Linked DNA regions of Homo sapiens. The protein of the gene in region 1 purifies or fractionates together with the protein of each later gene. This does not show direct contact. Each region holds a gene or a part of one and is shown in the gene's direction. Other genes may lie near its edges. The genes, in order: PSG8, TENM3, MEGF8 and ACOT9.

What was found.
Region 2: the proteins of PSG8 (region 1) and TENM3 purify together in Homo sapiens (affinity purification with mass spectrometry; 2 studies listed by BioGRID and IntAct, with this or other methods). This does not show direct contact.
Region 3: the proteins of PSG8 (region 1) and MEGF8 purify together in Homo sapiens (co-immunoprecipitation; 3 studies listed by BioGRID and IntAct, with this or other methods). This does not show direct contact.
Region 4: the proteins of PSG8 (region 1) and ACOT9 purify together in Homo sapiens (affinity purification with mass spectrometry; 2 studies listed by BioGRID and IntAct, with this or other methods). This does not show direct contact.

Annotation. Positions count from the first base shown.
Region 1 is NC_000019.10:42,762,656-42,769,753, reverse strand, and holds the start of PSG8 (pregnancy-specific beta-1-glycoprotein 8 isoform a precursor), read left to right. Parts: upstream 1-4,075; 5' UTR 4,076-4,172; coding exon 4,173-4,236; intron 4,237-5,472; coding exon 5,473-5,838; intron 5,839-7,098.
Region 2 is NC_000004.12:182,799,401-182,803,557, forward strand, and holds the end of TENM3 (teneurin-3), read left to right. Parts: intron 1-195; coding exon 196-951; 3' UTR 952-3,624; downstream 3,625-4,157.
Region 3 is NC_000019.10:42,328,633-42,335,666, forward strand, and holds part of MEGF8 (multiple epidermal growth factor-like domains protein 8 isoform 1 precursor), read left to right. Parts: intron 1-4,972; coding exon 4,973-5,136; intron 5,137-5,374; coding exon 5,375-5,581; intron 5,582-6,402; coding exon 6,403-6,583; intron 6,584-6,664; coding exon 6,665-6,753; intron 6,754-7,034. UniProt on the Homo sapiens protein: Acts as a negative regulator of hedgehog signaling.
Region 4 is NC_000023.11:23,740,243-23,747,272, reverse strand, and holds the start of ACOT9 (acyl-coenzyme A thioesterase 9, mitochondrial isoform a precursor), read left to right. Parts: upstream 1-3,996; 5' UTR 3,997-4,128; coding exon 4,129-4,148; intron 4,149-7,030. UniProt on the Homo sapiens protein: Mitochondrial acyl-CoA thioesterase. Catalyzes the hydrolysis of acyl-CoAs into free fatty acids and coenzyme A (CoA), regulating their respective intracellular levels. Regulates both mitochondrial lipid and amino acid metabolism.

The DNA of each region.
Region 1 (7,098 bases):
AACAACAGGTGCTGGAGAGGATGTGGAGAAATAGGAAGACTTTTACACTGTTGGTGGGACTGTAAACTAGTTCAACCATTGTGGAAGTCAACGTGGCGATTCTGCAACTAGAAATACCATTTGACCCAGCCATCCCATTACTGGGTATATACCCAAAGGACTATAAATCACGCTGCTATAAAGACACATACACACGTATGTATACTGCAGCACTATTCACAATAGCAAAGACTTGGAACCAACCCAAATGTCCAACAATGATAGAATGGATTAAGAAAATGTGGCACATACACCATGGAATACTATGAAGCCATAAAAAATGATGAGTTCATGTCCTTTGTAGGGACATGGATGAAATTGGAAATCATCATTCTCAGTAAACTATCGCAAGAACAAAAAACCAAACACCGCATATTCTCACTCACAAGTGGGAATTGAACAATGAGAACACATGGACACAGGAAGGGGAACATCACACTCTGGGGACAGTTGTGGGGTGGGGGCAGGGGGGAGGGGTAGCATTGAGAGATATACCTAATGCTAGATGATGAGTTAGTGGGTGCAGCGCACCAGCATGGCACATGTATACATATGTAACTAACCTGCACATTGTGCACATGTACTCTAAAACTTAAAGTATAAGAATAATAATGATAAAAAAAACACTATTAAACAGAAAAAGAAAAAAGAAAAAAATGAAAATAATTCAAGTGCTCATCAACACATAAATAAATAAATATGGTGACACATACAACAGAATGTTAATCTGCCATACAGAGGAATGAAGCTCTGACACCCGCTGGAACATGCATGGACTTTGGAAACATTATGCTAAGTGAAATATGTCAGAAACAAAATAACATAATTGTATAATTCCATTTATATGAAACATCAAGAACAGGCAAATTCATAGAGACAGAGTAGAGAAGATCAAGGTCTAGGGTGGAACATACAGGGAGTTATTGTTTAAAAGATACAAAGTTTCAGTTTAAAATGATAAAAATTTTCTAGGAAAAATAGTGGTGATGGTAATTTAACACTGTGTATGTGGTTAATTTCATTTGATTCAGCATTTTAAAGTGGTTACAATAGCACATTATTCACAGAACTGTGAAAAATAGATTTCTATTATTTAATTCACCCAGGCTAAGGTGTTTGTTATGGCAGCCGAAGCCCATGAATACATCATCTGACCCAGTGTTTCAATGAAAGGCATCAGATTTTCAATCAAGTTAGCTGGAAGCTCCTGTCCCCAGGAGAACCAGACGCCCCAAAACAAGAGCTCCAGCAGGGGCTCAACCAGCACAGGTCCCATAAGGCAGCCTCAATGTCAGGCCCTGGATGGCATGTGAGGCTACAATAATACAACCACAACGTGAAAATGTAAGTATTTTTACTACTTACAGACACTAGGAAGCACTCGGCAAACCTGGAGACCACAGACACAGAGGTCAGTGAGCCCAGACAGGGAGGAGAGAAGAGACCGGTGAGCCAATGGCTTTATTAAGTCCAGGGTGTTATCTGACAGGTTTCCAGCAGGGAGCTTTAATGGATGTGTTCAAAGCAAGCAGCAAACACTGGGACCAGGAGCTCACGCTGTGACTGAGAGGTGGTCACTTTAAATGTGAGGGCAAATGTCAGAATTATCAGTTTAAAGAAAGCAGCTGGAGAGAGGGAAACCCAGCACACCAAGCAGCAGAGATGCCTCTAAGATTTTATCTCTGGACACCAACTGGAGCCACTTGAACCAGACACAGTATTGAAAACTGCCATGGTGACCAAGCCCTGCCTCTGATTTGAGGCAAATAAACTTACACCTTATAAAAATGAATGCCAAGACAACATGACACTATGAGCATCATGACATCCAGGGACACCAGCAGGGTGTGGTACTGTGCCCTGGAGTCAGAATCCAGGGTTCTGGTCCCTGGGAGTAAGAAAATGAAAATGACTTGTCCCTGCCCCCTGACATTGATCTTCCCACCCTGCTGCTCCCTCTTCTGCTTCCAAGCCCAATTGCAGTGCTCAGCCCCAGACATCACTGCCCCCAGGGTATACACAGTGCCGCCTACTGCACACAAACACAAACTCACAGAAGGTGACAAAAATCTGCGTTTGGGACATCTGATTGTGAAAGAGGGAGAACAGTGAACATAGAGCCACACAGACTGGGACTCACGGGGCTGGAAGGTGAAGGAGCTGTAACATAACATATGTGTGACCTCGTGTGAAGTGTGCAGATCCATGTGGAATAAAACATGCAGCCTGGCCTGGGATTGCTGCCGTTCACACTTCCCTCCCTGTCCACCAGAGGGGGACAGAGTCCCTCCCAGCCTGGAGCCTTCCCAGGGGATGCCAACCTCACTCAGCGGAACCCACAGCCCAGCAGGGTCCACCCTCACCAGGGTCACTTCGGCCCAAGTCCTCAGCGCCCTCCATGCTCCCCACACGGACTCTGCCAGCTCCACCCTGACCTGGTGGCCGCCAACCTAACACCACTCCCTCTGCAGGGAGCTCCTCCCCACACACCTGCTCCTTCCCTGGGCCCAGCTAAAGGCATCTCCCAGGGCAGCGCTGGTGCACGCGACGCCACACTAGGCGCTTTCCCCTCGTGGCCTCCCTCCATCCTCATCAACTCTTTCTGTCACTGCTCCCTAAATGCCCGCCCCTGCCCCATCTATCCTGTTCTCTGGGGCATCCCAGGCCAAGCCTAGCACTGACACAGAACAGCAGCTGCCTAAGGGCCCACAGCCTCCCCGGGAATCAGCCAGGCACCCTATGACCTGCCTGCCCGCTGCACCACGGGGTGCTCAGAGTGCGTGTGATGGTCACACACAGGCACCATCCGGGATGTGGCCACCTGCCCCAGCTGTCCCTTGGGAAGGCAGACCTCTCCTGTGCGCTTGCAGGGAGAAGCGGGATGTTATTGCTCTTTGCTCCCAGAACACAACTCACCCCCACACGCCCCCTCAGGTGTGAGCAAGGTCCCTCCAGACAGGCTCTCTGGCCACTGCCTGTTCCTCCTCTACACACAGCAGCTTGGCCAGGTCAAAACCCTCAGGACAGACCCCTGGGTATGTCGGCACATGGAGGGCTGAGCCCATCATGGCCACGGAGTAAGTCAAGATGAATCTCTCCAGCTCTGAACCCCTGCTCTGTCCCAGGCACACCCTCTTGCGTCTCAACGAGCCATCTCCCTTGGGGTTCCTGGGTGACTCCCCACTTCCTCCTGCACCACCACGGGGAAGGTGTGGTGACCACAGGACAATCAGCTGGGCAGAGAAGAGAGGACATCAAAGATGGTCAGGAAGAACATGAGAAACCCTGAGCTCCAGCTCAGTGGCCAGACCCCACGGAGTCACAGAGTGACCGAGAACTGTCCCTTTGACTATGGGACTCACAGCCCCCACTGAGCAACCAGCACAGGCCTCTCCTCCCAAGAGACATGAGAGATTCACCCTGCACACCTCCAGGAAGGACAGTTTCCTCTGGGACACCCAGGTCCTGAGTGTCCATCCTTGGAAGCTGCAGCCAAGCTAGACACGATTAGAGAAAGGAAGGGTCCCTCTCACCAGGCAACACACAGCTCACCCACAGCACAATGGGGTGTCACTGTGACAGGGACCTGGTGCAGCTCCAGCCTCCTGCACTGAAGGGGAGAGCCAGATGGGGATGAAAGAGGCCAAAGGGCATGAATGTGCACCCCGACCCAGAGCCATGGGGACAGCAGGAGGCTGAGGCCCAGGACTCTGCTTGCCCAACCTGCAGGGTATGTTTCTGACTGTGTAGGTCTGTGTGTGTCCTTCTGTGTGTGTGTGTGTGTGTGTGTGTGTGTGTGTGTGTGTGTGTGTGTGTGTGTGTGTCTGCACAAAGTGTGTGTTGAGGTTTGGTGAAAGAATCACTGCTGAAAAAGGCAGAGGCCTCCACAATTCCCAGGGACCTGAAACACAGACAAAAGGAAAAACAGGAGGGACAAGGAGGCAGGACTGAGAGAGGAGGGGACAGAGAGGTGTCCTGGGCCTGACCCCGCCCATGAACCTGAGAGGTGCTCCTGCCCCGGGAAGAAGCTCAGCGCAGAAGGAGGCAGGACAGCACTGCTGAGAGCTGTGCTCAGGAAGCTTCTGGATCCTAGGCTCATCTCCACAGAGGAGAACACACAGACAGCAGAGACCATGGGGCTCCTCTCAGCCCCTCCCTGCACACAGCGCATCACCTGGAAGGGGCTCCTGCTCACAGGTGAGGAGAGAACCTCCTGGGAGAGGACAGGAGGAGGAAGCAGAGTGACTGGATGGGGTCTCCTTGAGAGTATGGGGTACTAAAAAATGAAAGAAGCCAGCACTTTGGGAGGCTGAGGCAGGTGGATCATGAGATCAGGAGTTCAAGATCAGTCTGGCCAACACAGTGAAGCCCTGTCTCTACTAAAAATACAAAAATTTAACCAGATATTGTGGTGTGCTCCTCTAATCCTAGCTACTCGGGAGGCTGAGGCAGAAGAATCACGTGAACCCAGGAGGCAGAAGTTGCAGCTAGCTGAGATAGTGCCATCGCACGCCAGCCTGGGAGACAGTATGAGACTCCATCTCAAAAAAAAAAAAAGAGAAAAAAGAGAAAAAGGAAAGAAGGCTCTATTGGAGCCTGGATAGGGGGAAATACACCAGAGAGGGACAGGGGTCAAAACAGGAAAGTCACAGGAACCAGAATTGGTAAGAGGTAGGAAAATCTTGTGTTCTGTTTTCCTGATTAATCATCAGGGGCCACCACATTTTGAAATATGATAATAATAACTGTATCAGATGACACTTCACATAAAAATATACACAGGGCATGAAACACTGTCCTCAGCAAGAAACCTCAACAATTGGGGGGAAAAAAAAACACCAAGGGCGTGGAGGGCCCTGAGAACTCTCACATCTACAGGAGTCTGCAGCCTGTTCTGGGCACTGGGGTGCAACCAAGATCACAAAAATCCCTGTCCTCATGGAGCTCACGCTGTCATGGAGGGGAAGACAGACATGCAAAGAGATCTAGAATGTAAGGTCAGGTGTTGAGAAGAACCCTGGAGGGAGCAGAGCAGGGAAAGGTCAGAAAGGGAAGACCCAGGGTATCTGAAGGAGGTGTCAGGAAAGAAATCTAAGGATGCCCTGATGTGAGCAGGACCTGAGGGCAGTGTGGAGGGGGCCATGCGGACCCCTGGGGAAGAGGATTGCAAACAGAAAAATGCCAAGGTCAGAAGTGTTGAAGGAATGGGGGTCATGGGGCTGACCTTGACCTAGTAGGATAGTAGGACACACACACATACACACACACAGACACACATGCCGCTTTTGTGTGTGTGTGTGCGTGTGTTTGTATGTGTGTGTGTCTGTGTCTTCAAGGCTGAGGACTGAAGAGAACTTCTCAGGACCCAGGGCCCCATGTTTTCACACCAATACATAGCTCTCAATATTGACTGATGCTCTCTCCACCTCCTAGCATCACTTTTAAACTTCTGGAACCCACCCACGACTGCCCAAGTCACGATTGAAGCCCAGCCAACCAAAGTTTCTGAGGGGAAGGATGTTCTTCTACTTGTCCACAATTTGCCCCAGAATCTTACTGGCTACATCTGGTACAAAGGGCAAATCAGGGACCTCTACCATTACATTACATCATATGTAGTAGACGGTCAAATAATTATATATGGGCCTGCATACAGTGGACGAGAAACAATATATTCCAATGCATCCCTGCTGATCCAGAATGTCACCCAGGAAGACGCAGGATCCTACACCTTACACATCATAATGGGAGGTGATGAGAATAGAGGAGTAACTGGACATTTCACCTTCACCTTATATCGTGAGTGATTCCACATGATCCCTGGGTGTTGGGGGACAGGGGTCACTTCTACTTCACACACACAGGATTGTCAGGCCTGGACATTGCCTGTGTCCCTCTCTGCATTATGTCCCATGCTGGGGTTTGGGCATTTAGTGCAGGACACACACAGAGGAGACAAATTTCAACAGATCAGAATTCCTTTCCCGCATCCAGACCCTGCAGACACTCGCTGCAGAGGAAGGACAGTCTGATGGGGGGACTCAGCAGGAGGAGATCAGTCTCAGACAAGCACCTCATGCCCTCTTCATAAATTTGACCCTGAGAAAGACCCTGGAGAACTGAGTAGGGCTTGGCCTGAGGAGCCCCTGAGATACTCTCAGAGAAGCTCAGCCCTAGAAGCCTCACCCCCAGAACAGTGTCCCTAAATCCTTGCTCCAGATAAATCTGAGGAGCCTGTGCTGGGGCTGGGTTGTGGCTTCTTGGGCAGGGCTTACTGGGACCGAGGATTTACCAGCTGTCAGAGGACTGTGTCTCCTGGAGCTGTTCACCAGCCAGGGCTCAGCCCTCAGAGCCTCATCTGGGCAAGGACAGAGTTTTCTTCACCTGACACTCAGAGTGGAGAGGACAGAAAGACAAGCTTTGTAGGCCATCAGACAACTGCCTTAGGAGGCTTAGGCCAGTCCATAGAAAGTCTAATGTCCCCAGAAGCAGAAACACAAGAGAGAAGATGTACCTGGTAGCAGCTTGCCCACAGGGATCTGACGCAAAGGGGCTTTCTCATGGAAGCAAATTAATAATAAATGCTATTTGTGTGAAACCTCCACTGTGCCAAGCATTAGGTCAGGTGACTGTGAATCATTTAACATTTATTCACAGATAGCATGAAAAGCCACTGTCCATTTGCCATTTAGCTTATCTGATTGACAGAAAACTGAGGTACAGGAAGACACAGTCCCTGAGCCAGAGTCACACAATCACAAAGGGGAGATCAGGGTCACATGAGGTGTGTCCGCAGCCACAGGCTCATCCTCTCCTCCACCAGAAGTGAGGGCTCACTGGCTTCCAAGCACCCCATAGTCATTTATTGGCTCAAAACCTCTCTTCTTAGGCATCCAAACCTCAGAGGAGTGAGAGAAAATGGTCAACTGATTAGTCTGTACTCCAGAACTAAATCACCTGCCTCAACCATCAGAGTCAGTGGAAAAAACATGTCCAGGCCTCCCCCTCAGATCTTAGCCCCCATCACTGAACCTGAAATCCTGTGTTTCCCAAAGTGTC
Region 2 (4,157 bases), on another chromosome or scaffold:
CAGAGCATCGGGATCACCTTGAGGGGGAGGGATCTCGAGTGCTCCCTCCACCCGGGCTGTCAGCCTTCTGGTCAGGGAAGGACCCCGGGGCTTCCATGCATGCCCCGGCGCTGCCCCCAGAGTCCCGTGTGTGGGTCAGGAGTGGGGAGGCTCCCGGCCGCCTCTGACGCGCCCCCTCTTTTGTTTCGCCCGCAGCCCATCTTCGGAGTCCAGCAGCAAGTGGCGCGGCAGGCCAAGGCCTTCCTGTCGCTGGGGAAGATGGCCGAGGTGCAGGTGAGCCGGCGCCGGGCCGGCGGCGCGCAGTCCTGGCTGTGGTTCGCCACGGTCAAGTCGCTGATCGGCAAGGGCGTCATGCTGGCCGTCAGCCAGGGCCGCGTGCAGACCAACGTGCTCAACATCGCCAACGAGGACTGCATCAAGGTGGCGGCCGTGCTCAACAACGCCTTCTACCTGGAGAACCTGCACTTCACCATCGAGGGCAAGGACACGCACTACTTCATCAAGACCACCACGCCCGAGAGCGACCTGGGCACGCTGCGGTTGACCAGCGGCCGCAAGGCGCTGGAGAACGGCATCAACGTGACGGTGTCGCAGTCCACCACGGTGGTGAACGGCAGGACGCGCAGGTTCGCGGACGTGGAGATGCAGTTCGGCGCGCTGGCGCTGCACGTGCGCTACGGCATGACCCTGGACGAGGAGAAGGCGCGCATCCTGGAGCAGGCGCGGCAGCGCGCGCTCGCCCGGGCCTGGGCGCGCGAGCAGCAGCGCGTGCGCGACGGCGAGGAGGGCGCGCGCCTCTGGACGGAGGGCGAGAAGCGGCAGCTGCTGAGCGCCGGCAAGGTGCAGGGCTACGACGGGTACTACGTACTCTCGGTGGAGCAGTACCCCGAGCTGGCCGACAGCGCCAACAACATCCAGTTCCTGCGGCAGAGCGAGATCGGCAGGAGGTAACGCCCGGGCCGCGCCCGCCGAGCCGCTCACGCCCTGCCCACATTGTCCTGTGGCACAACCCGAGTGGGACTCTCCAACGCCCAAGAGCCTTCCTCCCGGGGGAATGAGACTGCTGTTACGACCCACACCCACACCGCGAAAACAAGGACCGCTTTTTTCCGAATGACCTTAAAGGTGATCGGCTTTAACGAATATGTTTACATATGCATAGCGCTGCACTCAGTCGGACTGAACGTAGCCAGAGGAAAAAAAAATCATCAAGGACAAAGGCCTCGACCTGTTGCGCTGGGCCGTCTGTTCCTTCTAGGCACTGTATTTAACTAACTTTAAAAAAGAAAAAAAAATGTGTACAGTGTTTCCAAATAGTCCCGAATTGTCGACCTTTGCTTACAAGAAGTAGTCTGTCTGCATAGGATGTGATAGCTATCTCTGTTCATTTTACAATGTGGGGCAAAGTTACTGTTTCTAGACAACCCAACTGCTTTCCCTGTGCAGCTTTGTAGAAGGACATTGGCACAGTGACTTCTGCGGCGGGGATTTATTAATGGATTTTACAATGCTAACGTGGTTTCCCTTCGGGGAAAAAACTGGCAACTAGAATCCTTGTCACTGATAAGCAAAGGAAATCCTGATTTTTTTGTAAATTATGTGAGACAAGTTGTTTATGGATTTTTATATGAATTACAATTTACTGTACATCAAATCTTAGTCTCAGAGGAGTTAATTTATGTAAAGTGTTTAAAAATTTATACTTAAAAATAAAATGATAAAAACGTGAACTGTGTGATTTTTTTAAAAGGATTGCACCTTTTGTTATCTGTTATAGCTGTACAGTATGAATTATTATATTGTAGAGATATAACAACTTATGCCTATAATGTCCAGAAGTGTTAATATTTTTGTATTAGGTTGAAAAAATGTGCAAGCTTCTATCACTAGATGGATAGGACCGTGCAATTCTAGGTGGGTGGCGAATCAGAGAGCTCCTTTCTCTTCCCTCTCTCACGCATCAGGCCAGTGTCCTCAGCATTGTCAACTGAGAGGCACAGTAGACAACTAGGGCTGGTGGAATGTAAGGGAAGAAGATTGAAAAAACGGGAGGAAGGGTTCTCTGGCCCTCTCTCAACCTTGCAAGTCAATGGGGAGTTGTTGATATAATTAACCCCGAGGTTTTTACTGTTACTGTTCCAAAGCTCTGTCTCTTGATGGAGGAGAGACCACATCAGATGCTGGGGAAATAGGAGGAGGAAAGGTTCTGATGTAGTCGTGATCCTAAACACGTGTCTTAAGATCTAGGAAAGACAGCAGAAACCGAGCAGTGGTGGGTGAGCCAGATGGAGCCGGTCAGGGTTACTCTAAGCCCACATGACCAAACCATCTTGGGGGGCTGGTTTGAATGACAGCCTCTGCTCTGTCTCGGGGAAGCCGGGGGTGGCAGATCCAGCTGGAAGTGAACTGACAGCCGCGCCCTCCTGCACACATGCATGCACGCGTGTGGGAACGAGCCCAGCCGCCATCTGCACTTCCGTGTCGGCTCAGCTCTGACAAATCTCTTTCCTGAGCACTAAATTCAGCCACGAAAATATTTTTAGAAGATATTTCTCAGTTCATCGAGCTATAGTACACACTGTTTTCCTCTATGTATAATGGTGATAAAATATAGCAAGTGAACATGTCGTAAATATAAAGGTTCAAGTGATGTATTGAAAATAATTTTCTAACTGCTTTGTATGTATCACATACTCTAAATTGCACAGTAGGCGTGTTTATTAAACAGATGATTGGCTGGGAAAGTTTCAAAATAGCTACTGAATTTACAGTATCAGTGCTATTACTGTCTTTGTGTATTTGGTAGAGCATACCGAAGTAATTAATCTTCTAATGAATGCTGATGATATTTTATTAGAATGAAAGCACAGATTAGCATTAATATTTTTTATTCTGGAAATCCTTTGGCAAGTATTATGAAGCCCAAATTTAGAAAACTATGAGATTTCAAACCACATAAACATGATTCTGTTTTCCATTTTATTTTTTAACTGTTAGGTATTTGCAGTTCTGTTCCGTGGAACTTCTGCAGGCCTGTATTTAGCATGCTGTAAGTACTTTTGGGTGAAATAGGCTCTGAGTCTAAATTCTCAGACATGTTTCTGATGTATTACCATGAAAAGCTTGTGCCACATGACAGAAGTGAGATCATAGTCTTAACCTCTTCTTGACGTGGACTGGTCTTCACTCGGGCACCGATAAATAACAGATTTGGAGTATCTCCTGGTGCTTATTTTAGATGATGAAGTCAAATCAACCCAATTAGTGTCCTGTTAGTAGGTATAATGAGCCTATTTCTTTCTAAAAAGACTTGTGATCTGGACATGCTTTTACAAGAAATAGTGACCTTGGGGAATATGTAAACAAAAGACCTTTTTCTAAGAGTTGGGAGGGGGTGGGGGACTGTATAATGAAAAGAATTAGCTTACAAAAAAGAAATTGATATTCAAAGTATTTTAGGCAAAGCCAGTCAAAATGCTTTCATGATATTTTGAGATGTAAATTTTGTCTGATTTGTATTGTTCTTTTCATTTGCCTTCTTAACTTTATATGTGACCTGAATTTTCCATAACTTGATGACTATAGATTGCACCTAGGCATTCCAATAAAAGCCAACCCAATGTGTGTGTGTTTTTATATTTTTTCAAGTCTTGGGCTAGCCAGCATTGCTTTTGTGTTTAACGTGGAGGACGCAAATAGATGCAGTTGTTGGGGAATTGATTCATCTGCAACCCAGTTGGTAGTATCTTTTTTTTTTTTTTTTTTGTCCATTGGCCAGACTGCTGGCTCAGCAGAGTGAACTTCACAGGGGACTCTCCCATGGCCTACTTTAGAAAAACAGTAAACACACCCCCACAAAGCCAAACACGCTAACTGTAAAGAAGAGTTTACAAAAATACCACCCATTACTACTTGAGAGCAGGCCTCATTCCTGTGATCCTGGCAATAAGTGTGCTTAATTAAAACACTTGATTAGAATAATCAGTTTGGGCCTGGTAGGCTTGCAGCCTCCTGGAGATGTCTAAATCTACATATAGACCGGCTGATTAGAAGATGCTTAGTTCAGCAATTCTGGCCGGCAGGCCAGGGCTTTGATTTTAGTCGGAAGAGGCAGACTTCATCACACTTGCTTTCTAGTGACAACCTCAACTGCATAA
Region 3 (7,034 bases), 430 kb from region 1:
TAAAGAGTCCCAGACTGGTTAGGCCAGGTGCGGTGGCTCACGCCTGTAATCCCAGCACTTTGGGAGACCAAGTGGGGCGGATCACCTGACGTCAGGCTTTAGAGACCAGCCTGGCCGACATGAAGAAACCCCCTCTCTACTAAAACTACAAAAATTAGCCCTGCGTGGTGGCGCACATCTGTGGTTCCAGCCTGGGTGACAGAGCGAGACTCTACCTCAAAAAAAAAGAAAAAACGTCTCAGACTGGTTGGGAATGGTGGGGCTGGACACAGATATTCAGCCCCCAGTGTGTTCACTGAGACAGTGCTCAGGGCTAAGAAGGAAAGTGGAGGGGTGGGGTGGATGTACCTAGGGAGGAAAGAGGACTGTGCTGCAGATAACAGAGCAGGAGCCACTAAAATAGGGTTCTGAAGCATGCATAGGAGTTTATTGAGTGGGAAAAGGGAGCAAACAGCCTCTATGAAGACGTGAGGGTGGCTGGAGTGTCTCAGGATCCCCATCTAGGTTTGCCTGGTCTTATGGCACTTTTGACTGGGAGGTAATGAGAGCCAGAAGCAGGGGAAGAGGGGCCTTGAATGTCACACTGAGCAGCCTGGCCTTCCCCTTGGGGTTGATGGGCAGCCACAGGAGGTTTTGAGCAGGAGTAGGGCATTGCCCTCAGGTTGGGTGTGGGGCAGACTGGAGACTTGATGAGCTGATCTGGCAAGAGAGGATGAGTTCCTAACTAGGGCAGGGGCTTAGAGGGGTGGAGAGGTGTAGACAGTGCAATCGATGTTTGTGGAGTTTCACCTATAAGACTTGGGGACCAACTGGGTAGATGTTGGGGTGAGGGAGGAGGCTGGGAGACCTCCAGATCCCCCTTGATGATCTTCTGTTCTTACCAATGCCTGTCACTTCTTACCTATAAGAACCAACATCTTCCTCTATCTATTATAAAATAAACAACCAGCCAGGGGCAGTGGCACATGCCTGTAATCCCAGCACTTTGGGAATCTGAGATGCAAGGATTACTCGAGCCCAGGAGTTAGAGACTAGCCTGAACAACATGGTAAGACACTGTCTCTACAAAAAAATTACAAAAGATTAGCTGGGCTTGGTGGGTGGTGGCATGTGCCTATAGCTCCAGCTACCGGCGAGGCTGAGGTGGGCAGATCCCTTGAGCCTAGGAGGCTGAGGTCTCAGTGAGCCGAGATTGCGCTGCTATACTCCAGCCTGGGCAGCAGAGCGAGACCCTGTCTCAGGGAAAAAAAAAAAAAAAAGATAAACAACCAACCTACTAACTTTTGTATTATGTTCATACTTTATCTAGTCCTAGACTTTTTTTTTCCGAGAGAGAATCTTGCTCTGTTGCCCAGGCTGGAGTGCAGTGGCTTGATCTCGGCTCACTGCAGCTTCTGCTTCCCAGGTTCAAGTGATTCTTGTTCCTTGGTTTCCTGAGTAGCTGGGATTACAGGCATGTGCCACCATGCCGGGCTAATTTTTGTATTTTTAGTAGAGATGGTGTTTCTCTATGTTGGCCAGGCTGGTCTCAAACTCCTGGCCTCAAATGATCTGCCCTGGGATTACAGACGTGAGCCACCACGCCCAGCCCAGTCCTAGTCCTTATAACATCCTCATGGATAAGAGGCATCCTGCTTTTGAGCAGGAGGGAGTTTGGGATCAGATTTCTGTCTGGAGTGGTATGGGGGTTGGGTGGAAACAGAAGACCTTCAACTTAGGGAAGAACTTGGGGAGGCAGATGGTGAGCTGGCCTCCAGCAGGCACTTAACAAAGATGTACTTGTGATTCCAGAAACAGAGCTTTATAGTTTGGTTGAGGCTGGTAAGATTCTGGGAGGTCTGGTTGTGTGGCCGTGCTGAATGGTTCTTCTGCATTCCCCAAAGCATGGGTGGGGTCTGTGTCTGATGTCTTGGGGGCTCTGGTTAGAGCCTGAGGGAGAGCTTCCAGCTTTAGTATTCTGTCTTTTATGTATTTCTTCATTTCATCATCCAGCATTTCCTGAGCCTTTGCCAAGCCCGGGTCTGGGCAATGCTGCAGAGGGAATTAGGTCCACATCCAGGCCCTGCTCTATGGGCCTTGTAGGCTGCAGGGAGACAGACCTGGACATAGATGTTCCTGGCCCAGAGGAATGAAGGTTATAATGGGATGTGAGAACCCTGGAGAGGGGGCATCTAACCCAGCTAGGGGGCATCAGGAAGAGGCCTGGTGGTGGGAAGGGATAATATGTTGCAGACAGAGGGAGAAGCTTGTACAAAGGCCCAGCTCCCATTAGAGCTGTAAGCAGTGGGGTGATTTGAGACAAAGCGAGGGTCTGAACAGCAGGTTAGGGACCTGGACTTTCTCCTAGGGTGGTAGGGAGCCATGCAGGGCTTTGGGGCAGGGGAGGGACGGGGCCAGATGTTGAGTTGGGAAGATCAGAGACTCATGTCAGGGGAAGAAGGAGGTTGGATCAGTGGTTCTGGTGAGACAGGATGAGGCCGGGCAGCCAGGGCACACTCTGGCTCTAAGCTGGCAGGCTGGAGTCATCACCTCGTTGAATGTTCACCCCAGCCTTTGTGGGTGGGGGGAATTATCCCCATTTTACAGTCATGGAAACTAAGGCTCAGAGAGCCCATGGAACTGGCCCAGGATCACCCAGCCATTGGCAGTGGTGGCTGAGTGTCTCCAGGATCCAGATAGGCACACTGAGGGTCATGGGGGAAAGGGCTGGCCCAGGGTCCTCCAGCTGGTCATGGGCAGAGCCAGAGCCAGAGCCAGAGCCTAGGCCTCCTAATTTCCCTCACCCAGAGGACTCCCCTGAGCTGCCTGTTCAGAAGGCTTCTCATGTGGGATGTGGAATGAGAGAGGCTACCTGAACTAGGACTGGCAGAGAATAAGACAGTGACAGTGTTAGGGGTAGTGGCACTCTCCACGATATGTGGGCCCCATTGTCAACATTTCTTTTTTTTTTTTTTGAAACAGAGTTTCACTCTTGTCGCCCAGGCTGGAGTGCAATGGCATGATCTCAGCTCACTGTAACCTCTGCCTCCCGGGTTCAAGAATTCTCCTGCCTCAGCCTCCCAAATAGCTGGGATTACAAGCATGTGCCACCATATCCAGCTAATTTTTTGTATTTTTAGTAGAGACGGGGTTTCACCATGTTGGCCAGGCTGGTCTCGAACTCTTGACCTCAAGCGATCCACCCACCTTGGCCTCCCAAAGTGCTGGGATTATAGGCGTGACCCACGGCACCCAGCCTCTTTTTTTTTTTTGAGTCCCCTCTGTCGCCCAGGCTGGAGTGCAGTGGTGCAATCTTGGCTCACTGCAACCTCTGCCTCCCGGGTTCAAGCAATTCTCCTGCCTCAGCCTCCTGAGTAGCTGGGACTTGCACCACCATGCCTGGCTAATTTTTGTATTTTTTTTTAGTAAGAGACAGGGTTTCACCATGTTGGCCAGGCTGTTCTGGAACTCCTGACCTCAGGTGATCCACCTGCCCTGGCCTCTCAAAAGTGCTGGGATTACAGGCGTGAGCCACCCACCCCACTCTGTTGTCACCATTTCGTGTGCATTATTGCTCCTCATGAGGTTGCAGTCAGATGTCAGCTGGGGCTGCAGTCAGCTGAATGTTCACCTTGGCTGGACATCCAGGAAGGTCCCTCCCAGGGCTGGCAGTTGATGCTGGCTGTCAGCTGGAAGCTCAGTTGGGACTGTCAGCCGGAATGCCTGTGTGTGGCCTTTTCTTGTGGCTTTGGCTTTTCTTTGTTTTTTTTTTTGAGACGAAGTCTCGCTCTTGTCCCCCAGGCTAGAGTGCAATGGCACAATCTCGGCTCACTGCAACCTCTGCCTCCCAGGTTCAAGCAATTCTCCTGCCTCAGCCTCCCAAGTAGCTGGGATTACAGGCACCCGCCACCATGCCCAGCTAATTTTTGTATTTTTAGTAGAGACGGGGTTTCGCCATGTTGGCTAGGCTGGTCTCAAACTCCTGTCCTCGTGATCCGCCTGCCTTGGCCTCTCAAAGTGCTGGGATTACAGGTGTGAGCCACCGTGCCCAGCCGGCTTTGGCTTTTCCTATCATGACAGCTGTGTTCTGAGAAGGAGCATTCTACGAGGCCCAGGTGAAAAGTACAAGTCTTCTTATGATCTAGCCTTGGAAGTTTCAGAATTTCTGCTGTTTTTTTATTGGTCAAGCAAGTCACTAAGGCTCTTCCCAGATACGAGAGGCAGGGAATTAACTTTCAATGGCAGGAGTGGCCTATAAGTTTGATTCCACCACAGTACCACTATATCCCACTTTAGAGATGAGGAGACCGATCCAGAGGGGGTGGGTTACTTGGCCAAGATCACACAGCTGGTAGCTATTTGGTGGCAGAGCCAAGACATAAGCTCAGGCAGTCTGGTTCCAGAGTTTGTGCTTGTAACCATCACAATAAGCAGAGGTGAGACTCTGGATGGGGACAGAGGGGAACTATGCCGCTCCAAGGTTAGGCCTCTGTTCTGGGGGAAGAAGCTGGACTCTTCTCTTGCAGCTCTATTCAGCGTGGGCCAGGGGTGGTGTCACGGAGGTGCTCTTCTCACTGGGATTATGACCTTGACCCTCCAGCCTGGACATGTCTGAAACTCAGGCATGGACAGGAAGAGAGAGGCATCAGGAACACTGGATTCTGCTCTGTGTGGCCACTGGGATGGGGTTTTCTCTGTACTTAATTTTCCCATCTGAATGGTGGGAGTGTTCATTCTGATCTCAGGTGACCTTTCTAGAGGTCTGGAATATTATGATTCTTTCTCTGGGCTCCTGTCCCTCTGGCTGTCACAGCCCTTGACTGCCCTAGGTTATGAGACTGGGGGCCCCTTCAAGGCGGGGCCCAGGTCTGACTCATTCTTGAGCCCCCAGCATCACCTGGATCAGGGTTTGGTGTACAATTGTGGGAGGCTGCAGGGAGGTGTGGGGAGAAGGTCCGCTTTAGAGCTTGGTCCCTCTGTGCTCACCTCCCAGCCCCAAGCCCCCAGCACCGGATCCTGCTGGACTTCCTTTTCCTGGACACAGAGTGCACGTATGACTACCTGTTCGTGTATGACGGTGACTCCCCGCGAGGGCCGCTGCTTGCCAGTCTAAGTGGGAGCACCCGACCTCCGCCCATCGAAGCTTCCTCAGGCAAGGTTAGTGGGGATGGGGCCGTGGCAGATACACCGAGGGAAATGGAAGAAGAAAGGAGGGACAGAGAGTCAGTAAGAGGGCATCCAAGAGCAGAGCACAGGGACAAGGGAAGGTGGAGAGAGGCAAAGGAAGGAGATGAGGCTCTGGGTCCCCCAGGGTGGAAGGGGGCAGGAGTGGGCCACCCTCCCAGGACAATCCCCAGGCCCTGCCCACCTTACCCAGCACACCTTGTGCCCGCAGATGCTGCTGCACCTCTTCAGTGATGCCAACTACAACCTGCTGGGCTTTAACGCCTCATTCCGCTTCTCCCTGTGCCCGGGTGGCTGCCAGAGCCACGGGCAGTGCCAGCCACCGGGTGTGTGTGCCTGCGAGCCGGGCTGGGGGGGTCCTGACTGTGGCCTGCAGGAGTGCTCAGCCTACTGTGGCAGCCACGGCACCTGCGCCTCGGTGAGCCGGTCCCCAGCCCTGTTTCCCCTGGGGCCCTGATCTGTGAGCGCAGCCTCCACGCCCATCTCCTAGGTCTGACCTTGCTCCTGCATGAAACTCCCCCCACCACCCCACCCTCCTCCGTGACACCCACTTCCCTCTCCTTCCAGAGCTTGCCCCTCACCTGTTACTCCAACCCCACCCCACCTTCACCTGCAGGGCCTCCCCTGCTGAGGATATCCCACTCTCATCTATACCCCACTCTCATCTGTGAACACCACCCTCCTTCCTCCAGCCAGGCCCAAATCTGTCCTCCCATCCAGCCACTCTGTGTGGCCTTGGACCCCTGCCATGACTTCCAGCCTCGCACCACTGACCTTACGCCGAAGCTGTGTACATCCAGCTTTCAATCTGGATTGCGCTTTGAGCCCTCCCCGCCTTGACCTCCCCAGATCTGAGCTCTTTCAGTCCAGGCTGAATGTCAACTACGCTGTCTGTATTCTCCCAGCCTGCCGTCTTTCTGTCTTTTCTCCTTTTTCTCTGTGCATCTTTTCCTTTTTCTGTTGGTCTTCTTTTTTCCGTCTGTCTGCTTCCTTCTGATTGTTTCTCTTTGTCTCTTGTTTCTGTCTGACAGTTTGCCTTTCCCCTCTTCCTGTCTCTCTCTGTCTCCCTTTCTCTCTCTCTCTTTCCTTTTCCATCCTCTCCCTTCCTGTCTGTCTCTTTCTCTCTCCCTTTGTGCCCTGTCTGTCTCATTCTGCCTCTTTTCCTCTCTGTGTCTCCTTTGTCTCTCTGTCCTTGTCTCTCCCTCTCTTATCTCTGCCTTTATGTCTCCTTTCCCGCAGCCCCTGGGACCATGCCGCTGTGAGCCTGGCTTCTTGGGACGTGCCTGTGACCTGCACCTGTGGGAGAACCAGGGGGCTGGGTGGTGGCACAACGTGAGTGCCAGGGACCCTGCCTTCTCTGCCCGTATTGGGGCAGCTGGCGCCTTCCTGTCCCCACCAGGGCTGCTGGCAGTTTTCGGAGGTGAGCAGATGGGGCGAGTATCTGGGATCTGGAGGCCCGGCAGCCTATGGCCAGGGCATGAGACTATCCACCCCTCCACAGGCCAGGACCTCAACAATGCCCTGGGTGACCTCGTCCTATACAACTTCTCCGCCAACACCTGGGAGTCTTGGGACCTGAGTCCTGCCCCGGTATGGACCCCTCCTCTGCCCTGGAGGAGCCTTTCCACTCAATCAGACCCAGCCGGGGACCCCCGGAATGATCCCCTATCACCTAGTGCTCCCACAGTTCCTGCAGCTTGATATAGGAACCTACTTCTCCCTGTTTCTGCCTTTTCTCTCCGGTTTTCTTTTTTCTTCTTCCTCTTCCTTTATCTGCCTTTGTGCATCTTATTTTTCCATGTGTCTCCTGTTGCTCAATCTGTCTCTGTTTTCGTCTGTCTGACTTTTGGGCTTCTGTGTTCTCTGTTTCT
Region 4 (7,030 bases), on another chromosome or scaffold:
CGCTCAGGCTTTGAGTGCAGTGGCACCATCTCGGCTCACTGCAACCTCCGCCTCCCAGGTTCAAGCAATTCTCCTGACTCAGCCTCCCAAGTAGCAGGGAGTACAGACGCGCGACAGCATGCCCTGCTCATTTTTTTTACCTTTAGTAGAGATGGGGGTTTTGCCATGTTGGCCAGGCTGGTCTTGAACTCCTGACCTCAGGTGATCTGCCTGCCTCGAGCTTCAAAGTGCCAGGATTACAGGCGTGAGCCACCGTGCCTGGCCCTCCCCTCCTAACTTTATTGTGGATCCTTTTGTATAATCTGAATAATTGAGGAAATAAGATATATTTTTAAAAAGTTTCTGTGTCCTAATGAAATCGTAGTTCGAATCACTTTGTTTGAAAGTTGATGACAGTTTTCCAGGAACATTTTCTACCTAAATCAGATATCCAAAAGTATATATTATTCAGCAGCCCAAGGAAAGATGGTAACTGGATATTTTTCACTCATAATACTAGATTGAACTAACAATGCCTTTGGCCGGGCGCGGTGGCTCACGCCTGTAATCCCAGCACTTTGGAAGGCCAAGGTGGGAGGATCACGAGGTCAGGAGTTCAAGACCAGCCTGGCTAACATGGTGAAACCCCATATCTACTAAAAATACAAAAATTAGCCGGGTGTGGTGGCACGTGCCTGTAATCCCAGCTACTTGGGAGGCTGAGGCAGGAGAATCGCTTGAACCCAGGAGGCGGAGGTTGCAGTGAGCTGAGACCGCACCACCGCACTCCAGCCTGGTAACAGAGCGAGACTCTGTCTCAAAAAAAAAAAAAAAAAAAAAAAAAGAAGAAGACCTGACAATGCCTTGTTAGGTTTTGTTGTTTGATTTAAACAATTTTTTTTTTTTTTTGTAGAGATGGGGTCTTGCTCTGTTGACCAGGCTGGTCTTGAGCTCCTGTTCTTAAGCAATCCACCCACCTCAGCCTCCCAAAGTGCTGGGATACTGCTTTCCAGCCTTGTTATTTGATTTTATTGTTTTACTTGTAATAACGACATTAATATCTTATGTATCTGTCAGTGCATGATTAAGTAACTTTTAATTACACAATTGATACCATCTCTGTTATCCTGAGACCATATTAAAATAGAACTAATAGAACATAACAGGAAACAAAAAGGTTGGGTAGAGAACCTGTTACTTAAGGACGGTGATTCTCACCACTATACAATTGTTGTATGTTTCCTGTTTTGATTTTGTGACCATTTCCCCTTCCTTCTCTGCTATCCAAAATGTGGTATAGCATATATGCTTGATAATAATGACGACAACAACAACACACACAGAAATCAGAGTTGCTAAGCTGTTTTAAGAATTTTATGCATGCTGCCAATTGAGGTAGTTAGAGACTCGTGGATGAATGCTGGGCAGGCTAGGTCTAGCAGGGGTTCCCTGAAGTTACAACTAAGGTAGGTGGGCTAAGTGATGTGATCATTTTTTTCCCTCTTTAACCTTCTAGTGGACATCTATGTGGTTGGCTGCTCCATACTCCTCTTCTTTTCTTTCTTTCTTTTTTTTTTTTTTTTTTTTTGAGATGGAGTCTCTTGCCCAGGCTGGAGTGCAGTGGCGCGATCTCAGCTCAGTGCAACCTTCGCCTCCCAGGTTCAAGCGATTCTCCTGCCTCAGCCTCCCGAGTAGCTGGGATTACAGGCGCCCACCACCACAGCCAGCTAATTTTTGTATCTTTAGTAGAGGCAGGGGTCTCACCATGTTGGCCAGCCCAGTATTGAATTCCTGACATCAGTTGATCCACTCGCCTCAGCCTCCCAAAGTTCTGGGATTACAGACGTGAGCCACCGCACCCGGCCTCGGTACTCCTTTTCTAAGAAGGTGCTCCGTATCCCCATCTGTACAGTTACTTACAGAAATAACCATGTTAGTAGATTGTGACCCAGTACCTGGCCATGAGTCTGGGTGAGGGGGTTCCTGGTAAGTCAGGGCAAGGGTTCCTTACCCTGATGCCACAGTTGGCTAGTCCAGGAGTGTGTACCTGATCCAAATTGGACCAATGAATCTCTTCTCAGAACTTTTTTGTATTTGGGCCGTAGAAATTTCAGTCAGTCTGTATGTGTGTGGCTGTGGTTGTAAGATGTAAAGTTCAGGAGCTTCTATTGCCATATGGAGAATGTCATTACATAGAGAGAAAAAAGAATGAAGCCAGTATGCAAAGGAAAGCAAAGATAAGCAATAGAGAGAAGGCATCTGCATGGCATTAAGTCCCTGGTTTCAGCTGTTCCAGCCAAAATCGATGGTGTTTATTATATTGATGAGAATGTGTCTTTATAATTTGGAAATTGACGGAAGGCGACTTGATTGCGGGAAAAACTATAAACTGTACCTACCTATTATACCATTTACAAAAAATTCTCTCTTGTACTTATTTTTTCTCCCTGAGCCTCCTATTGCTTCAAAGAAAAGTTCAAGTAAAAAGAAGAACAAAAATAGCATAATTCAATACAATATTTATTGCCCTCTGTGTTAGGTGTGGTAGAGTATAAAGAAATATGGCTGACCCAAAACCAACAAGACAATCACTGAAAAGTGACTTGTGAACAATGTGAACAATGTGACAAAAATGAAAAGACAATGTGAACAAAAATGAAGGAGAGATCCTTGTAGGCTAAAAGGGGAGTCTTCCAGATGTGAGATTGATAAAAGCAGGGAAAATTCAGTAGAAAGAGAAAGCCGAAGACCATGCTCCATGTGTAACTCATGAAGTGATTCAAAACAGAAAGCTAGCTTAATTCAAATCAATACATTTTTACTAAGTATGGGGTATTGCGAAAAAGCATATGGCCCTTGCCTTTTAGGAAATTGCCGTATTTAGAGGCAAAGCAAGACTTGCTTATATTCTCAAAAGATCCCCACTCGTTACCTTATTTCCCCTTTAAACCGCTTTACCATATTTGAGATCATGTTATTTGCTAACTTGTTTGTTGATTTGTTTTCCTTCCTTATCAAGAGGCAAGCCCCTTAAGGGCGGGGATTTTTGTCCTTTTTTCTTTTTGCAACCCCAACCTCTGCAATAGTGCCTGGCACAATGCAAACAGCTCAATAATAATTCGTTGAAAGAAATGGAGAATTAGATCGTAGGGTGAAATAATCTTAAACTCTCTGGCCTTGAATCTCTCTAGCTCGCCCAAGATATCAAACATTGGGGGTCAGGCCGAGAAGAGGAGAGGAACAATTTTTTCCTGTTAGGTCAGTGGTTTTTAGCCTTTGGTTACATTAGCATCACCTGGGGGCATCTTTAGACATCATCCCGAAGCCCAGACCGCACCCAGGACTAAACTAGAATCTCCAGCCAGTGGGTCTCAAGCATCAGTTTTTTGTTGTTTTTTTTTTGAGACATTGTCTCCTTCTGTCGCCCAAGCTGAAGTGTAGTGGTGCGATCTCGGCTCACCGCAACCTCCGCCTCCCAGGTTCAAGCGATACTCGTGCCTGTCCCCCGAGTAGCTGGGATTACAGGCGTCTGCCACCACGCCTGGCTAATTTTTGAATTTTTAGTAGAGACAGGGTTTCGCCATGTTGGCCAGGCTGGTCTTGAACTCCTGACCTCAGGTGATCTGCCCGCCTAGGCCTTCCAAAGTGCTGGAATTACAGGCGTGAGCCACCGCGCCCGGCCAAGTATCAGTATTTTGGAAAGTTGCCCAGGAGATTCCAATGTGCAGCCAAGGGGAAGAACAGACGGAGCCAAGGCGCGGGGATCAAGGATAAAGGAGACAAGCTCCACTAGGCAGAGCCGGGCCTCTTCTCGACGTCACGCCCTGGCGTTGCTGCGTGGTTCGTTTACTCAACCGAGAATAGGCCGGTCCTCGCTGTAGCAACACGACCCGCACAACTGATTGAGTGGGAAGCTCCGCAGAGGCGGACTCCAGCCTCCCGCCAATGAACGGGTAGGGTCCGCCCGGCACAGCGCGGCCACGCCCCCTGGACGCCGCGGTCCCGCCCCCGGACACCGCTGTCCGGCTCCCGGGCTGTCCTCAGCAAGGGCGCGGTCTGGTACTCGTGCGTCTTTTATCGCCTCAGTTTCCCTCCGCCGACTAGCGCGCGGGGCCCGGTTCTCCATCGCGCGCACGGCAGCCTAGCGCAATGAGGCGGGCAGCACTGCGGTAGGTGGCGGGGCGTGGAAGGGGCTGGCAGGGCGGTAGCCTGGGGTGCCATCGTCTTCCCCTAGAGCTTCGGGCTGGCCCCGGCGGAAGAAGTGGGCCACGCATGGGCATTTGGGCTCTATGATAAGGGGCGCTCGCCCACTGTACCTCCGACCGGACATAAGCCCGCCGGCCTTTGGTTGGGAGAACCTCGCCCCCACTTTGGCGACTTCTAGCACTGAGTTTGATATTAAAAGCAAAGCAGCACTTTTAAGGGAGGAAGTTGGGTGTTCCCTAAAATTCCTTTGGCCTTGCTCATCCGGGGTGTGGTTGGTAGCCGCGTCGGGGTAGCCCCTTGTCAGAAAGATAATATTTGGAGTTCTATGTTACCTCTAGCCCTTCATCTTCCTTTGGAGAACATTTTTAGGATTAAATGCTTGACCTACTTCGGCTCTTACTTAAGTTTGTTGTAACATTGGCAGAGATTACAGGGTACCTTTTGGCTCCCAGGACCCTAGGACTGTGCGTCTAGGACCCTGGTGCCAATTTGAACTTAACTTTAATGAGCCGCAAAGCCCTTATAAGAGGCTGGGTGCTTTGATTGGGCCACGTGGGTAAGGGAGGATGCCTTTTTGTATATGTAATCTTCCCAGCTGGCACAGTTAAGGCCTGAGGGCCTTAGACTCCAGAGCGTGTCTAGCTCTCCCTAATCCCTTTCACCCGAGCATGCCACCCTTTCCAAGTTTTCTGCCTGGCTGCATCCCAGGGGGCTCACACCTGCTCCAGTTTCTGAAGTTATCTCGCTGCCAGTGGGCCTGTCCCCCTGATGTGACTCATAGTGCTTTTGACTCACATTAACCCCATCAATTCTCTTGGGGGTCCTGGATATCTCTCTCTCTCTCTCTCTCCCTCTCTCTCTCTCTCTCTCTCTCACTCACTCACTGTTCCTGGGGACTTTGTTATCAGTTGTAAGGGTTCTGTCTTGTTTATAGTACTTAAAAACAAACAAAAAACCTTTGTTAAACTATTTGAAGGCAGACTGAAAGTCATTATGAGAGGGGCCACAGTTGACTTTAGCTTGCAATGTGAAAGGTCTTCTACAAAAGCTCCATGGTCTTGTTCAGGTGCTTTCTCTTATAACCCTGTGTTCCTTTCTTGAAAATTCTATTGAGGCCGGGTGTGGTGGTGCACGACTGCAGTCCCAGCGTTTTGGGATGCTGAGGTGGATGGATCACTTGAGGCCAGGAGTTCGAGACCAGCCTGGCCAACATGGTGAAACCCCGTCTCTATTAAAAATACAAAAATTAGCCGGGAGTGGTGGTGCATGTCTGTAGTCACAGCTACTTTTGGAGGCTGAGGCAGGAGAATCGCCTGAACCGGAAGGCAGAGGTTGCAGTGAGCTGAGATCGCGCCCCTGCACTCCAGCCTGGGCAACACAGTGAGATTCTGTCTCAAACAAAAAACTATTGAACCTTAAGCGGATAATCTCTTAGTGTCTAGTGAGAGGAGGAGTTCACAAATGAATATAGACTGAGATGATTAGGTTCTTTGACTGGTGGGCAACCTTTGTAGCTTCTTTTCTTTTTTAGACTTGCAAGAGGCACCTTTGTTTAGTCTCTAAATAGAGGTTATTTCCTCAGAGTGGAGGGCATATGAGTGGTATTGCCTGTTATTGCACTGAACACTCTTCCTTGCCAACTGCTGTAAGCTTGGGACCCAGGGCTGAGCCAGGGTGAGTTATGTGACTCCCCAGGTAGGCCATGGAGGCCTTGAGTTTTCTTTTTTTTTTTTCTCTTTGAAATACTTTTTTTATTTCTTTGGGATATATGTCCAGAAGAGAAATTGCTGGATCATATGGTAGTTATATTTTTAATTTTTGGAGGAACTGCCTCATTATTTTTCAAAATGGCTGTACCAGTTTACATTTTCACCAATAGTGTACGAGGGTTCCCTTTTCTCTACATCCTCACCAACACTTGTTATCTTTTGTCTTTTTGTAATAATCATCTTTTTATTATTATTATTATTATACTTTAAGTTTAGGGTACATGTGCACAATGTGCAGGTTAGTTACATATGTATACATGTGCCATGCTGGTGTGCTGCACCCATTAACTCGTCATTTAGCATTAGGTATATCTCCTAATGCTGTCCCTCCCCACTCCCCCCGCCTTGAGTTTCTTGATCTCCTTTGATTGGAAAGGTTCAGTTACAAGGTCCTGGGATTTGAGTGTTGCAAAGGCCTCTCCACAGTAAAGGCCTAGAGGTTTTGCTATAAGTAAGACTCCTGAGGGCTTATCAGGAGATAAGCCAGTAACCCTGAGGTACTGAAGTGTTGAGTATTGATTAAAACCATTCTCCCACCTCCTCCACCTCAGTGCGGTGTGTGTGTGTGTGTGTGTGTGTGTGTGTGTGTGTGTGTGTGTGTATGTATTGGGGGAGATCGGAAGAACTGGGCTCTATCTGGACTCTGCTGGTGTGCCTGTTGACTGGCACTGGGGGAAAGTCGTCTGAAACTGGGGCCTCAGTTTCTTAAGGAGGTTGGTTTGAATCAGAATCTTCAAATATAGGGGGATCTGAGGGTACAAAAAGGGTCTGTGCACCTCCTGAAATAGTATATACCATTGTGTGTGTGAGCAAAAATGTATTCCAACCCTTCCCACGCCCGCTCGAGGTCCACAGTTTCCATCAGATTATCAGTAAATAGGATACCAAATGTAGTGAAAAGTTACCATTACATGCCAGGCGCGGTGGCTCACGCCTATAATCCCAGCACTTTGGGATACTGAGGCGGGCAGATCACTTGAGGTCAGGAGTTCAAAACCAGCCTGGTCAACATGGTGAAGCCCTGTCTGTACTAAAAACACAAAAACTAGCTGGGCATGGTGGTGCACAGCTGTAAT